Regions from separate parts of the Homo sapiens genome. Here all the other regions are linked to region 1. Evidence: fine-mapped expression QTL. A gene starts in region 1. Each other region holds a variant in brackets. All regions are shown on one strand. Distances are from middle to middle.

The links. PIP is the estimated chance that this variant, and not a neighbour inherited with it, causes the effect. A credible set is the group of variants that fine-mapping cannot tell apart.
Region 2: its variant is the best candidate, but not a certain one, in a credible set for the expression of FLT4 in caudate (GTEx, PIP 0.51).
Region 3: its variant is the best candidate, but not a certain one, in a credible set for the expression of FLT4 in skeletal muscle (GTEx, PIP 0.51).

Annotation. Positions count from the first base shown.
Region 1 is chr5:180,648,242-180,650,992 of GRCh38, forward strand. FLT4 (fms related receptor tyrosine kinase 4) reads right to left here and starts at 1,359. Exons shown (of 30, transcript NM_182925.5): 1 at 1,247-1,359. The coding sequence starts at 1,304.
Region 2 is chr5:180,612,152-180,614,902 of GRCh38, forward strand. It overlaps FLT4 (fms related receptor tyrosine kinase 4), which reads right to left. Exons shown (of 30, transcript NM_182925.5): 24 at 1,917-2,028; 25 at 860-959; 26 at 355-460. Among named protein-coding and RNA genes, the nearest start is that of SCGB3A1, 22 kb to the left of the region's middle. The variant C/T (reference allele first, on the strand shown) is at 1,485.
Region 3 is chr5:180,617,994-180,620,744 of GRCh38, forward strand. FLT4 (fms related receptor tyrosine kinase 4) reads right to left here. Exons shown (of 30, transcript NM_182925.5): 16 at 2,616-2,722; 17 at 2,180-2,315; 18 at 1,672-1,776; 19 at 1,260-1,373; 20 at 1,028-1,116; 21 at 777-927. Among named protein-coding and RNA genes, the nearest start is that of SCGB3A1, 28 kb to the left of the region's middle. RefSeq lists an enhancer at 1,838-2,751. The variant CAG/C (reference allele first, on the strand shown) is at 1,499.

The sequences.
Region 1 (2,751 bases):
GATAGATGTTCTCCTCCCTCCTCCCCTGGTTGAGCCAGACCTGCCCCCTCTCCTGTCCTCTGCCCTTCAGCCAGTGGACATACAGGTGGTGAGCAAAGGCAGGCTTTGTCAGGCTTACTTTGGGCCTCCTGGGGACCTTGGGGAAGTGACACATGTCCTTGGTCTAAGCTTCTCCATGTGTAAAATGGGTCTGACACTCCCTGTGAGAATTACAAGCATGTAAAGCCAGTATTTAATTCCTATGGCGTGCAGAAATGTTGAGGTCCCCGTCGCTGACTTCAGGGCTTCAGACACTGGAACCCCTGACCCCGCCCTTACACCCTTTGATTTCCAGGGACACCAGCTCCGTGGGGACTCCCAGCTCATCTTCTCAGCTTCCTCCCTGACATCTCCATCCACTCCCTCTGCCGCCCGCTCATCCCCCACAGTCCCTCTTTCCAACCCCTCCGCCTCCGCTTCAGGTCTGCGTCTCTCCCCGCCAGAGCCACATCCCAACACAAACCGAACCCCGCCTCTCCTGTGCAGGGGACCCTCCCGCGGGGGCCTCTGCTCCTCAGCTGGCCTTCGAGGCCCCTGTCCCCTCAAATCCGGGGACCCCTGGCCTTCCGCCCCTTCTGCGGCGCTGACAGCCCGCGATTCGCCTCCTCAAGATTCGTCTCAAGTGCCAGCGTGCACCTGCACCCGTCCGCCTCGGGCGCGCGGTGGTCCCCGGCCCCTGTCCCCGCCGTCGCCGGCCACGGGGAGGGGGAAGCCCGCCTCGAGCGCCCTCTGGGGGACCGACCGCGAGCGGAGGCGCTGGGCGTCGGGAAGTGCGCACCCAAGTCCGGGGCCCGGCCGGGATGGATCTCCGGCGCGCGTGGGTCGGGACGGCGCGGCGCGGGGACCCCGCGGGGAAGCGAGTAAGGGCGCGAAGGATCCGGGCTCAGCGCGCAGCCCGGCAGGGCCCGGCTCCGAGGACGCGGAGCCACCGACGGAGACGCGGATTCAGGGGCCGGGAGAGCTACCCCTGCGCCGAGGCGCGGCCCGGCCGCCCTGGCCCTGACCCGGCTGCGGTCCCCGCCCGCCCCTTCCTCATCCCGAGGTCCCGCGCCCCAAGCGCCGTGCTCCCCTCAGGCGTCCGCGCACCAGGGCCACCGTGTCCCCCGCCCGTACCCGGCGGAGCGGTCTCAGCGCCCGCCCCAGGTGCGCGGTACCCCCTCCCCGGCCAGCCCCACGCTCGGGCGGGTGGCCCGTTCGCCGCGCTCACCGTCCAGGAGTCCCAGGCAGAGCCACAGTCGCAGGCACAGCGCGGCGCCCCGCTGCATCTCCGGCCGCTGCGCGTGGGTCCGACCCGAGCGGCCGCGGCTCGGGGCTGAAAGTGTCCGCGCGGGCGCCGGCTGGCCTGGGGCGGGGCGGGGCGGGGCGGGGGCCGGAGGCGGGCCCGGGATTCAGGCCGCTCCCCGCGCCCCCCTCCCCCCGTCCCTCCCAGCCCGCCGCGGGGCGTCCGGTGCACCCGAGCAGTGCGCGCTCCGCACCACAGGGTCCGGGCCCCCTCCTGGGCGGCTCCGGGCGCGGGGACGCGGGTAACGCAGACGGTCTCGCGATGCGCTCCGGAGGTGATGGAGCCTGGTGGGCAAAGGGGAGCAAAATGCGGCACGCGCTCTTTTCCGTCCTTTCTTTCCATCGGTAAAATCTAGACTAAACAAGAAAGCAATCCTTGTAAAAATAGTATGTTACATCTTTGAAAATAGTGGCACCAGCCGGCGTAACATAGGGAGACCCAGTCTCAAAAATAAACAAGCAAATAAATAAAATAATACGCCGAGCTTGGTTGTGCGCGCCTGTAATCCCAGCTTCTCGGGGGGGCTGAGGCAGGAGAATCGCTTGAACCCGGGAGAAGGAGGTTGCAGTGAGCCGAGATCGCGCCACTGCACTCCAGTCTGGGAGCCAAAAAAAAAAAAAAAAAAGCAAAAACAAAACCCGTTCAGCAGTGTTTACCTGCACAGTGTCGACGGACAGTGTCGACGGAAGCCGCACCCGTGAGCGGGACACCCGGGATGACCGACCCCCTCCCTGCAGGCCTGGCCTCCTAGCTTTAGAACTCCCCCAGATGTTTTGTTCTCAGCTCAATCAGGACCCGCCCCCACCTTTTTAATAAAGCGACACTTTGCTTTTGCTTTCTGACTTGGCAACCCTCTTACAGACTTCCGTTCTCTTTTCAGTTTGTCTCTAGAATTTTCCTGTTTAATAATGAAGCCCATGACCATGACTGTCTCAACCTCCTTCCCTGCTTTTCGTTTCATTCACATTTTCCATCCCCCCACCCCCGCCCCCCAAAGCCCTTTCATCCTCGCCAAAAAGCAAGAGTAGATTTTCAATAACCACTACCAGCTCTCTCCAATCCAGGTAAGAAGTGGCTATATTATTAAGCTGGAATCACAAATCAGTGCGGATAGTGTAGATAATTTAACAAATAAGGTTGGGGAAACTAGGTAACCAAGCGATACATGAAGTTAGGTATTTATCAATCATATATTGATTTTTTTTAGCTTTGAAAGATTATGAGATGTAACACACTTATGGAAAGTACATAATATATCAGCATATTATAAACCTGAATTTTAAAGCAACAAATACCTGTGTTTCCATTCTCCAGGCCAAGGGATGTAGAATGACATCCCCACATCCCCTCACTTCCCATCACAAACCCCTCACCAACCCCAGAAGATGCCCACTACCCTGGCATTATCATTTCCCTGCTTTTGTTTATCA
Region 2 (2,751 bases), 36 kb before region 1:
GAGTGGGGGACAGAACTGGCACCAGGTGAAGGAATACATCATGACGATGCCAGGGAGATGGGGCTGCCTCACAGGCCGGGGGGGACCAGCCTAGGATTCCCCTCGCGCAGGGACAGGCTCTGACTATCCACACAGCACCTGGAGCAGGCAGTGGAGCTGTGCAGCGGGTGTGTACTCAACAGAAAGATGCAAGGGTGTGGGGACGAGGTGTGGATAGGGGCCCAGGACCCCACCACCCTAGCCTAGCAGCTGAGAGGTGGGCAGAGCCTAGATGGGCTTGGAGGGGCAGCTCGGGCCAGGGACCCAGGGCAGGGGCCAAAGGCCATAGTAGAACAGGGTGGGGAAGGGGCTCACTTGCAGGCCCCTGCCCTGGAGCAGGTCCCCCAGGATCTCCACCAGCTCCGAGAATGCAGGTCTCGCCTTGGGGTCTCCGGACCAGCAGTTCAGCATGATGCGGCGTCTGCAGGATCACGTGGGCTGCTGGACTGCATGCACCCCACCCCCGTCCCAGGACCTTCAGTGCCCCAGCCTTCCTGGGCCCTCTCACCCACTCTGCCCTCCTCCTGACACGTCTCCCACTCTTGTCCAGCTACCCTCGTTCCTCCTTCAAGTGTTAGCCCAGCGTCCCCTCCTGGTGATGCTTTCCCTGAACACTCGGCTCTGTTCCGACAGCGCCCGGCCTTCCCTCCTGGTGTCCTCCTGGTGCAGCTGTGCTACAGACTACCCGTGTATCTTGAGGGTGGTGCCCAGGCCTGTCCTACTGGCCCTGGCTTCCCTGATGCCACCTTCTCATGGACACAACCCCCACGCCCCCGACGCTTGCTGTCCCCAAAACCTGCAGGGCCATGGGGAGGCTCACATGGCGGGAGTGGCCAGCTCCGGGGCCCTCATCCTTGTGCCGTCTCTCAGCCGCTGGCAGAACTCCTCATTGATCTGCACCCCAGGGTACGGGGAGGCCCCTGACAACAGGAAGGGGAGGTGGGTGGGGAGCAAGCCTCCTGCGGCTCAGCCCAGCCCCCCAAGTCACCCCATCCTGTCCCTTCCCCATCAAGTCACCCCGTCCTGTCCCTTTCCCCATCCGTGGTGGGGTGGAGATGGCTCACCCGACTGTGCTCTACCTGGGACCTGTGGGCAAGTCGCTGCCCTCCCCAGCTCTAGTTCATTTGGTTAAAAGAGGACTGTGCCGCCTGCTTGCTAGGGGTGCCAAGAGCATCCACCCACTGGCGACACGGTAGACATCATGGTTACTGGATCATCAGCGGCGGGGGAGCCGCCTGCAGGCAGTTTCAACAAAGCCTCTCTTGCTTCTCGCTGCTTCTCCTGCTGCTCCCCCCAACCCCTGCTGCTCCCCCCAACCCCTGCTGCTCCTCCCAACCCCTGCTGCTCCCCGTCCTGGACTGCTGAACTCCCTCCTTGGGCCCCTCTGGCTTACCCGAGCTCCCACGCCTCCTACACTCTTCCTGCTCCTTTAGTTTCCGCAGTAG[C/T]GTGGATCAGTTGCCACTTGGTGACATTTTAACTTTTTCAAGTTCACTGCCCTACCCTGGCCTGGAGACTTCATCATGCTCGCAGCGGGGCCTGAGTTCCCACATGGAGCTCTTGGAGCTCTTGGAGTAGGCACGTCTGCTGACTGGGCACTGAGCTCCCTCTGGGGCTGCCATGTGAAAAGGCTCAGTCCTGGCTCAGGCTTCAATGTGCACCCCACAGAGGGTGGCCCACGTTGGAGGCAAAGTCCTCTCGGAGGCTGGGCCAGGCTGGGGAGAGGTGGGGGGCCCTTGGTGGCCCACAAACCACCTGCTTCAGAACGACCTGGCACACACCTCCAGGTGCCCAGTCCCTTACTCCAGCAGGGGCGGTCATGTAACCTGCCGCCAGTGACCTCGCCTCCTCTCCCCACCGGCACCCCATCCTGCACTCACCCAGAGAGAAGATCTCCCAGAGAAGCACCCCAAAGGACCACACGTCACTCTGCGTGGTGTACACCTTGTCGAAGATGCTTTCAGGGGCCATCCACTTCAGGGGCAGCCGGGCCTGGGGAGACAGAGGGAAGCTTGTCCCGTGGTGGATGGGGAGACGGAGGGAAGCGTGTCCCGTGGTGGATGGGGAGACGGAGGGAAGCGTGTCCTGCGGTGGATGGGGAGACGGAGGGAAGCGTGTCCCGTGGTGGATGGGAAGAGAGGGCTGAGGCCAGATGCTCTGGCACCCCCTAACAGGGTCCTCTGCCTGGGTTGAAGGTATCTCCCTGCTGCTGTTCTCCTGGGTCTGTCTGGGCCCCTCTCCCTCCCAGCTCTCAGGGGAGGGGTATCGGGGTAGACTGTACACCTTCCTCCAGCCCTAGACCTCCAGCGCAGCCTCCTGATGAAACGCACCCCTGCACACTCTCACCATCTCCCCTGACAAGCACGCTCTGTCCACTCACTGTCCCCACCCTGGAAGCCGGGCCATCACTCCTGACACCCTCCTCCTGGGCTCCTGAGGCATCTCCGCCGCCGGCTGTCTCTCTCCCTCTCATGGTCTCTACCTGGGAGCCCTGAGGGCCAGGGCCCTTCTGGACTGGCCTCTACCTCCACCCCAGCACCCCCACTCCCCTCTCTTCCCAGCTTACGGCATAAGGGAGGTTTTTGTAACTGCAGACAACCTGACACTTCCCTCCAACCAGCGGCCATGCTGGGCTGGATGGCTCATCAAGACCAGGCCCTGGGCCCATCCTGCTCCTCCCCCTCTGACACCCTTTCTCCCCCAGGCGCGGAACCC
Region 3 (2,751 bases), 30 kb before region 1:
CTGCCACTCAGCCTCTGGGACACCCACATCCTACTCCAGAGCACCCTCTCCTGCCCCTCAGCCTCTGGGACACCCACGTCCTACTCCCAGAGCACCCTCTCCTGCCCCTCAGCCTCTGGGACACCCACATCCTATTCCAGAGCACCCTCTCCTGCCCCTCAGCCTCTGGGACACCCACATCCTATTCCAGAGCACCCTCTCCTGCCCCTCAGCCTCTGGGACACCCACGTCCTACTCCCAGAGCACCCTCTCCTGCCCCTCAGCCTCTGGGACACCCACGTCCTACTCCAGAGCACCCTCTCCTGCCCCTCAGCCTCTGGGACACCCACGTCCTACTCCCAGAGCACCCTCTCCTGCCCCTCAGCCTCTGGGACACCCACATCCTACTCCAGAGCACCCTCTCCTGCTCCTCAGCCTCTGGGACACCCACGTCCTACTCCAGAGGACCCTCTCCTGCCCCTCAGCCTCTGGGACACCCACGTCCTACTCCCAGAGCAGTAAATACTGTTGCTCTGTGGGGGCCGGGCACCTGCTGCTTGGCCCTCCACTGCCTGCCTTGTCTGCAGGGCAATTTCCTATTCAGCCTCTGATGACCCAGTCAATCGTAAAACATCTGTGTGAAAATTGTCCCCGAGGTGTCTTCCCTTCCTAAGGCAGAGCCCATTCCACACTCTCCCATGAAAGCCCCCGCTGAGGACCCCAGGCTGGGGTGCCTGATCACGGGATATAACCGGGCCCGTCAGGCACTAGGAAAAGGGAAGAGGCCAGGCTCTCACCTTCTTGGTCTGGAGAAGCCCGCCTCGCTCCGCCCTCGGTCTTCGAGAACCGCGCGAAGAGGACCCTGTCGCTGCTCCCCGGCCGCCTCCGATCCAGCCTGGCGAGCTCCACCATGGCGCGGAAGCGTCCGCGCTGCTCGGGAGACTTCTCCTGCGGATGCACGAAGCTGGCTCGAGGGCGCCCAGTCGTCCGCCGCAGAGGCGCCTCCATTCCCCCGCCGCCCGCGGCGCCCCGCAGGCCGCCCGCTCACCGCGCAGGGGCTGAAGGCGTCCCGCTTGGCGCGCAGGAAGTTGGAGAGGTTGCCGTACTTGCAGAACTCCACGATCACCATGAGGGGGCCTGCGGCGGGACCGGGCGGCGGCCGTGCGTTCGGAACCCGGGGCGCGCTGCGGGCGCGCTCCGCGTTTGCACCCGCGCCCCCTCCCGCCCGCGGCGCCCCGCGCCCGGGGTCTCGCCGTCCCAGCGGGCCGCCCGCTCCGTACCCTGCGGCTTGGTGCACGCCCCGAGGAGGTTGACCACGTTGAGGTGGTTGCCGATGTGAATGAGGATCTTGAGCTCCGACATCAGCGCGCGGTGCTCGCTGGCCGTGGCGCCCTCTGGAGGGGACACGGGCCTCACACCGGCCCCGACCCTGGCAGGTCCCCGTTCCCCGCCACCCGGCGCTTTTGGGAGGGGGAGGGTTACTAAGGGCCCCCAGGACATCCTGCCGGCCCCACTGAGG[CAG/C]AGGGGGTTCGGGTGGTCCCTCGGCTCTGAAGCCCGCAGCCTCCCTGTAGAATCTCGGATGAGACTGGCTTCCAGCCTCAGTCTCCCTTCCCGAGTTGCCGTCCCACCGGCCCACCCCGAGCTGCTGCTCCTCACCAGCTAGGCTGCCCCTTCCGCCCGCTGACCCCACACCTTTCAGCATTTTCACGGCCACGGTGTCACAGCTGCTGCCCTTGTGGATGCCGAAAGCGGAGGCTTCCACCACCTTCCCGAAGGCGCCGTAGCCGAGCACTCTCCCTGTCGGGGCAGGGGGCCAGTTGCAGGTGAGCTGTACGGGGTGAGCGTGGAGACAGGTGGGCGGCGGGGGAGCCCCGTGCAGAGGTCCAGGAGGACAGGCCTGGCAGCAGGAGGAGCGTGGGGAGCCACAGCGGGAAGACAAGGAGAGGTGGACAGGAGGCCGCGCATCCTCCCGGGTAGGTGTGACAGATACACCCTGCTCAGGGTGGCAGCAGGTGACCTCAGGGAGCCTGGGAACTGGGGACCCTGGCTGAGGTTCTAGGTACCCACGCCCACAGGGACAGGTCAGGCCAGGCGGAACTTCCTGGTGCAAGTTTTGAAAATGGAGGGATTCAGGCACTCCGGCCTGCAGCAGGTGGGTCGGGCAGGAGGTGTGGGTTGGGCAGGCTGGTGCTGGCCTCACCCAGGTGCAGCCGCTCTCGGGGGAATTCCCACTGGCTGGCATCGTAGGACAGGTATTCGCATTGCTCCTCCAGAGGCACCTCCCCGGGGTCCATGATGATGGACAGGTAGCCCGTCTTGATGTCTGCGTGGGCCGGCTGCGGGGAGGGGACAGGGAGGAGTGGGGCAGCTCACTGATTTGGCCATACCACTGTGGCTTGGGCAGAACTTTGCCCAGGACAGATGGCACTTCCTGCGGGGTTCTCAGTCAAGGAGGGGACAGAAAAAAAGACAGACAACCTCTGCGGGGTTGGAGCCCAGCGTGAAGGGCAGGGAGGCTTCCCAGGAAACAAGGCTGCCAGGTGAACTAGGGCGGGCACCTTATTCTTTATCTTAGGGGCGGCCAGGGTGGGGAAGGCCTGAGAGAGACTCCATCAGGAGCGGGGAGGGACACTCACCCTCCTCATGTTACAGAAGATGAGGAGGAGGAGGACCCAGAAGAAGACAGCGATGACGCCGGTACCGACAAGGATCACGATCTCCATGCTGCCCTTATCCTCGGAGCCTGCGTGGGCAGAAAGGGGCCGGCGTGTG